Homo sapiens: one gene and its partner. The protein of the gene in region 2 purifies or fractionates together with the protein of the main gene of each other region. This does not show direct contact. Each region holds a gene or a part of one and is shown on either strand. Other genes may lie near its edges. The genes, in order: IL36A and SMIM12.

The links.
Region 1: the proteins of SMIM12 (region 2) and IL36A purify together in Homo sapiens (affinity purification with mass spectrometry; one large-scale study listed by BioGRID and IntAct). This does not show direct contact.

The regions. Positions count from the first base shown.
Region 1 is NC_000002.12:113,003,803-113,007,720, forward strand, and holds the start of IL36A (interleukin-36 alpha), read left to right. Parts: upstream 1-1,656; 5' UTR 1,657-2,069; coding exon 2,070-2,079; intron 2,080-2,171; coding exon 2,172-2,285; intron 2,286-2,795; coding exon 2,796-2,935; intron 2,936-3,918. UniProt on the Homo sapiens protein: Cytokine that binds to and signals through the IL1RL2/IL-36R receptor which in turn activates NF-kappa-B and MAPK signaling pathways in target cells linked to a pro-inflammatory response.
Region 2 is NC_000001.11:34,849,631-34,853,392, forward strand, and holds the end of SMIM12 (small integral membrane protein 12), read right to left. Parts: 3' UTR 732-3,762; downstream 1-731.

The DNA of each region.
Region 1 (3,918 bases), on a different chromosome or scaffold from region 2:
AGGTGATCTGCCTGCCTCGGCCTCCCAAAGTTCTGGGATTACAGACATGAGCCATTGTGCTTCAACTTTAAGTTTTTTAGTCATAATTGTGTAAGCTGAACCAATTAAGATGTCTATGATATTGGCTATCATTTCTGCTGTTAATATTCAGTCCTCTTCAACTAGGGCACAAAAAGATTAGTTTTTTCCTTGCAAAGTGATGTGGATGGTCTGCTGCTGCAGGTGCTATTTTCAATATTGTCTCACTTCTTAAAATGAGTTATCCATTGTAAACTGCTGATTTCTTTGGGTCATTGTCCCCACAAACTTTTTATAAGCCATCAATGATTTCACCATTCTTCCACCCAAGTTTCACCATAAATTTGATTTTTGTTCTTGCTTCAATTTTAGAAGAATTCATGTTGATCTTATAGGGGCTCTTTTCAAACTGATGTCTTACCTTTCTTAGTGCCTCAAACTAGATCCTGTTCAAACACCTTATAACAAGTTAGTAGGAGTTTATTTTGGTGCAAAATAATTCAAAATCCATGCATAGTTTTTTTCATAATATGCATTTTCCATGAACTTTTTGATGACCTCTTGTATGAAAGGGGATTTATTAGGGGAATGAACTCATGCAATTTTGGAGGCTGAGAAATCCCATGACAGACCACCTGCAAGCTGGAGACCCTGGGATGCAGGTAACATGCTCAGTTCAAGTCCTAAAGCCTCAGAACTAGGAAGCCACTGGTGTAATTCTCACTTTGGGATAGAAAGCCTGAGAACCCAGGGAGATGCTGATATTAAGTCCTGGAGTCCAAAGTCTGGAGTTATAATGTCCAAAGGCAGGAGAGAATGCCCCAGCTCCAGGAGAGACAGAAAATCACCTTTTCTCTGTCTTTTCCATGCCATCCATGCCCCCGGCCAGTTGGATGGATCCCACCTACGTTGAGGGTAGATGTTCCCCACTAGTACACTGACTTACACACCAATCTTCTTTGGAAACACCCTCATAGACTTACCCCAAACTAATGTATTACCAGTTCTTTAAGTATTCCTTAAACCAGTCAAATTGACACTTAAAATTTACTATCACGCTACCTATACTAGAGATAGTGATCTAGAGTCCATTGAGGTGGCTAGAGTGCTCAGGAGCTGGCTTTGCTACAGTAATACTCCCTTCTTCCATGGAGAAGCAGCATGCACAGTGGCTCTGAGAAGCTGGAGGAGGGTCACTGGAGTGAGTGGGCTTCTGGTCTGAAATTGACCAAGAATATAGTTCCTGTGGACCAGGAGTGATTAGAAGCTACAGAGGTCTTAAGAGACCTATCCCTCCTCAGTCTACCTTGCACTTACTGAGGGCTCCCACTCTTAGGAATAATTCCATCGTTTCATTTTGTGGCATCAGAGATGAGTCATTGACCCGGAAGAAGTCCCGTAATGTTTCTCAACTCAGTATCTGTGACTATATTTCCTGCTCTTAAAAGTTTAGCATGCCCTCATGTTTCAGGTTGCTTGGAGAAGTCTTAACCATGCTGTTCACATAAAGAGTCACTAAATCCTCTGGCATCAGGAACTAGAAAATATCCTGAGTGTTGGGCAGTGCCAGACTTAGTGAGGCAGAACTTCCTTCCTTGCCCATGTGGATAAAAGGCCTGGGCCCTGTTACAGCCTGTCAGAAAACCCAAGTGCAGTAGAAGCCATTGTTCATAATGGTAGGGATACAGGGTCCTTCGTAACAGATTATCAGTGTGGCCTATGCTGGAAAGTCTGGTGACCTCTGATTTTTTTTGCTTCCAGGTCTTTGGCCTTGGCACTCTTTGTCATATTAGAGTTCCTGGGTCTAGGCCTGGGCAGGATTCATAGGTGCAGCTGCTTCTGCTGGAGGTAGACTGCATCCAACAAAGTAAGGGTGCTGGGTGAGTTCTGGGAGTATAGATTCTGACTGGGGTCACTGCTGGGCTGGCCGCCAGTCTTTCATCTGACCCAGGGTTAAACTGTGGCTTGGGACTGACTCAGGTCCTCTCTTGGGGTCGGTCTGCACATAAAAGGACTCCTATCCTTGGCAGTTCTGAAACAACACCACCACAATGGAAAAAGGTAAAGATCCTCGTGGAAGGGCGAAAAATTGACAAGGGGGTGATATTCTGTGCTCTCATTCTTACTAATTTACATTTTGACTTTCTCAACAGCATTGAAAATTGACACACCTCAGCAGGGGAGCATTCAGGATATCAATCATCGGGTGTGGGTTCTTCAGGACCAGACGCTCATAGCAGTCCCGAGGAAGGACCGTATGTCTCCAGGTGAGTAGCCACGGTCTGTGAAAGGCAGCTCCTTTGGCCAGTGCTGTTGTGTGTTTGGTGCTCAGATGTTATTCCACAGTGGGCTTGTTAACCGGGCATATCTACAGAGAGGAGCATCTCACAGACAATAATGAATAGAGGGTGAGCATAAGGTTGTTCTGGGACTATGGTCATGAAGTCAGAGAAGAGAGAGAAGGCTTAAGGGAGACTGAAGGGTCAGCCTATGAAAAACAGTGGAAGACGTATTCTGAGAAACTTCAAGGAGTAAGAGTAGGACAAAAGAGGGTAATCTATGGGAGGACCAGTTTTTGAATCCATGAAAGACTGACTTTTCTAATGGAAAGTGTTCCCCAAACATAGGATGGGTGTCCCGGTTAGGTGGTGGGTGGTGAGGTGACCATTCTATGAGTGCACTGTGAGTGTCAGTTAGCAGATTCCCTTAAAACTCTGGCTCAGAGGTACCACCCTGGAAATGGCAGCTGAACACCACTTTTCACATCGTGTTCCCAGTCACTATTGCCTTAATCTCATGCCGACATGTGGAGACCCTTGAGAAAGACAGAGGGAACCCCATCTACCTGGGCCTGAATGGACTCAATCTCTGCCTGATGTGTGCTAAAGTCGGGGACCAGCCCACACTGCAGCTGAAGGTGAGTGTGGAAGACAGGTCCTGCCATTTATTTGATGGAAACTCAGATTTCAGGATCTTTTAAAAGACAATGTACTTATTATGCTCATGCATTTTTATTTTTGGTTTCCTTGGGGTTGGTATATGTTATGAAAGACTAAGAAAAATTGCAGGGACATTTTGAAACAAACCTACTAAAATGACTTATTATTTTAATTTACAAAAATATTAATAATTTGGCAAGGATGATGTCTAACTTCAATAGAACACACACACAGAGTAAAATCAGCAAGGACATTTTAGCAGTTAATTATCACAAAGTAGACGAACTTATTAAAACATCTTTTTGGCAAAAAATACATTGCAACTTTAAATGAACAAACATAATTCTCTGTAATAAACACTTCAATAATCGCAATTTTCCATTATTAAAAAAAGATAATTATAGCAGGCCTCTGTGTACTACAGGAACTCTCTTGACCCTTTTCAGTAAACAAGCATAAGCAGACACTCAACTTGATGACAAGATATAAAACAGTGTTTTTCAGCCAGGGGTGATATTGCTCCAGGGACATTTGTCAATGTCTGGAGATGTTTTGGTTGTGACAACCTGGGATGGGGGTGTGATACTTGCATTTATCGGGTAGATGACAGGGATGCTACTAAACATCCTATATTATTATACAGGACAGACCCTGAAAACAAAGAATCATCTTGCCTAAAATGTCAATAGTGCTGAAGGTGCAGAAACCTGACAGAAAATAACTGTTTTAATTTGAAATTTACAGTAACTGTTACATAAATATTCTTTAAGTTTCTGTTTCTGAACAACAAATAATGGCCCAATCAATGCTTTGTATTCTCAAAAACTTTCATGTCAACACATTTTTCAGAGCCTCACATTAAAAACCATTAAAATTTGTAGCCTGAGTTTCAACCATAATCTTAAAAGAATTTAATTTATATGATTTTCAATCCCATAATATGAAACAGAGGTCTCCAAGC
Region 2 (3,762 bases):
AAAGAGCAACAAAGGGCACAGGGATGGGGTTGGGAGCCTCGAGGAGTTTGGATTAAAAAAAGATTACCTTGGCCGGGCACGGTGGCTCACACCTATAATCCCAGCACTTTGGGAGGCCAAGGCGGGCAGATCACGAGGTCAGGAGATCGAGACCATCCTGGCTAACGTGGTGAAACCCCGTCTCTACTAAAAAAGTACAAAAAATTAGCCAGGCATGGTGGCGGACGCCTGTAGTCCCAGCTACTCGGGAGGCTGAGGCAGGAGAATGGTGTGAACCCAGGAGGCGGAGCTTACAGTGAGCTGAGATCCTGTCACTGCACTCCAGCCTGGGTGACAAAGCGAGACTCCGTCTCAAAAAAAAAAAAAAAAAAAAAAAAAAAAAAAATTACCTTGAAGTGTTGCAGACTCTGTTGCATCCACAACCCATGAAGGAAGAGGGCCGGGCGAGATGGTTATGCAAATTACTCCAGCTGCACTTAGCAGCTTAGGCTCAGAGAAGGAGAAACGGAATTGCAGCAGGGGTTGGAAGTGAAGAAACTGGGCAGTGAGAGAGGGAATAAGGGCCCTAAGGACTTTGGATTCTTCTACATGGAAAAGGTGCCCTTGCTGGGGCGCTAGTAAAGATTTTTTTAAATCTGAATAATTAGAAGGGCCCATTAGGCATTTTTTAACAAAAAACAAAGCCAGAGTTTACTTTTGTATTATGTAAAAAGGATCTGATTAACACATAATTGATGTTAACAAGTTTAATTCAAAAAGAATAAACTGTTTTTTAAGTACCAGAGGCACTGCTGGAACAGGATGAAAACTGATACACCGGTTACTAATTACTCTTCACTCTTCAAACTGATTCCCCTAAAGACTTCTACTTAGCAAATACTATAAAATACGCTCTGTACAGGAAAGAAATAATAGCACATGTATTTGTATTTTATTATTCAGACTGGCTGCCATCCCAACTAGATAAAGGAGGTTTTACTGGGCTGTAATATCTAGCACTTGCATGTTTTCAGAGCACTCTAAACTGGTTGTCTCACTCTTTTCACACGATCAGCAGGGAACACGTTCCCCATTTTGCAGGGAAACCAAGGCCAGTAGAGGTGAAGCGGCATACCCCAGGTCATCACTCAGATCGCTTGCCTCCAAGTCCAAGGCTCTTTCCCCTCCCAATTCTCCTGATCTGTGACCTCCTGGGCATTCTGGCCAATCTGCTTCCCTCTGACTTTGCAGACTGCACTGATGGAACTACCACTAAGGCAGGTGTGGAGCCTGCAATCTCCTGACCAGCTTGTGCTTCTTGGTTCTTATGCAAGCCAGTTCTCTCTGTGAAATATTTCTAAGCAGCCCTCAACCACCAGGTCTATGAGGGTCCCTGTTGTCCCTCAGCCAAGGCTGCTCTCTCCCCTAGATCCCCACCTCACCAGGGTCACAAGGATACACACAACTATTGCAGGAAACATAGGTTCTTCCTGCAATACAATTAAAGCTGCTAACATTTACTGAGTACCTACTGGTTGTTGTGAGGATGAGGTAATGTATGTAAAGTTTTAGCACAGTCTGTGACAATGTATATAAAGTTCTTAGCGTACTATGCTAAGAACCTTACATAATTACCTCATCCTCACAACAACCCAACAAAAATTCTTACCCCTATTTTACAGGTGAGGATATTGAGGTTCAGAAGGGCTAAGTGACTTGCCCAAGGTCATCCAGTTAATTGTTAAGGCAGTATTCATAACTCGAGCCTGTCAGACTCTAGAATCCACTTTATTTTTCCTCTGCTACACTGCCCTGGCTCCCTACCCTACAAGTGCTTAGAGATCTAAAGCAAAGTAGAAAAGGAAAAGTGAGCAAGACGGAGGGGCTTTTACATTTTCACTGCCTGGCTCCCAACCCAGACTCTGGCAAGGCTAATTCCATGATGTTTCACTCAGCGGCAGTCCCACCAGCCTGGAGCCCTGGGGAGCTGACCAGAGTCAAAAGGCTCCCTGGCAGGCTTGTTCTGGCAGCTGCCCAGCCGACTTGTGCTAACACAGCAACAGGCACAGGAAAGAGTCTAGAAAGAGTGGAAAAGCACCAGACACTGAACCGCTGCAGGGAGAGAAGTGATTCCTGCCGTGCTCGGAGAGGACCCTATACTAAAGCCACCACCATCATTGGGCTGGGAAGAGACGGGGGTAAGCGGGGAGCAAAAAGCCCCAAGCACATCCACTCACTCATGTGTTTCAGTGAACTGTGACTGGAAGGCCAGTCAAAAAGAGGGTCACATGCCTCCAAGGTGAATCAGCAAGCATGGAAGAAAACCGGTCTGCACCTTGGTTCATCCCAGCAACCCTGACCTGTCTATACCCACGTCCACATAAACCTTGCTATCTAATGTCACCCGAGCAGAGGCAAGAGCACATATACTATCTTACAGCCACCGCAACGGCTGATTTCAGCCAGCCTGTGGGAAAGAAAGATCTAGCTGAGAACACTAATAGACTTGCTAGAGGAAGAATTCAGTGACAAAGTGCCCTTGGAAAGGAAAGAAAAGAATTTAAAAGGGGGCACAATCAAAGTGAGACTGGAAGAAGGGAGCCACCTGGATTCCCAAAGATAGGGCTCTCTCGACCAGACACCAAGTGGAGGCCAACGGGTGGTGACAGGGATATTTTAAAAGATCTGAAAATCCAAAAATGTCCATGGGAAATGTGTTTGCTATTATTTCTGTAGGCTTTCCATCCTCACATTTTTCTTAGGTTATTAAGCTGCCTTTGTACAGGATGCCCAAAAGTGTTTTGAGGGAAACCAATTCTGGGATCTAATATTTGTAACAAGTTGTTAGATCGCCAAAAAAAAAAAAAAAAAAAAAACCATAATTATAGGTGTCATCAGAAGGAGGAGGCAGTTTGAGAGGTCACAAATTGGCAGCCACTGGGTCAAATTAACCCCACGGGTATGATAGCATGCTTAGAATTTTGTATAATGAATTATCAACACTTGAAAATCAGAAGGTTACACACACCAAAAAACCCTGAATTTCTAGCATCTCTTCATTTTTTTTTTTTTACCCCCTCTGGAGCTCTTAGAACATCTTTTAGAAAAATTCAAAAATCTGGTACCACTGGATGAGCAGCAGATTGGAAGGTGAGTCACCACTGCCCCCTTTCGGCAGGTCTATACTTTCTGCCAGCGTGGTGGCTCATTTGTCACCTGACCTCTGTCAGCACTAGTGTTTGGTTTAGCCCAGGGAAGTGACTGCAGGCTTGGTAATGCCCAGGACTGCCATAGGGTGGCAGCACTGGTGTGCCGATAAGGCCTGCTCATCAGCCAGAACCTGCAGCCAGAACCAGAAATCTCCTTACTTGGTAGCTGACAGTCTCTTCCCAAGTTCCATCCGATTTGTTCCCTGGGAAGCAACAGCAGCTCATTTCCGCATTCCCACTAGGCCTCAGGGAGCCTTAGAAGAAGCCAACGACTCAACCTGCTCCCTCCTCTCAGGCCACCACCAGGTCCTGGAAGGCACCTCCAGCTGGCACCTCTTCACAGCTGGCCCCTCTAACTGTTCAGGAACTCCACCCTCACCCACCTGTGGACACCATCAGGCCTCACGAGAGAGAACCTAAGAAGCAGGGCCAATACCCACTCCCTTTTAGAGGCAGATCAATTCATCAAATGCTCACTACTGCCCTGTGCTGACTTTAGTTAAACATCAGTAGGCTTCAAGAGGCAACAGCTTCTTATGCTTCTTCCTGCTCTCTGCTTTTACTCCCCTCACAG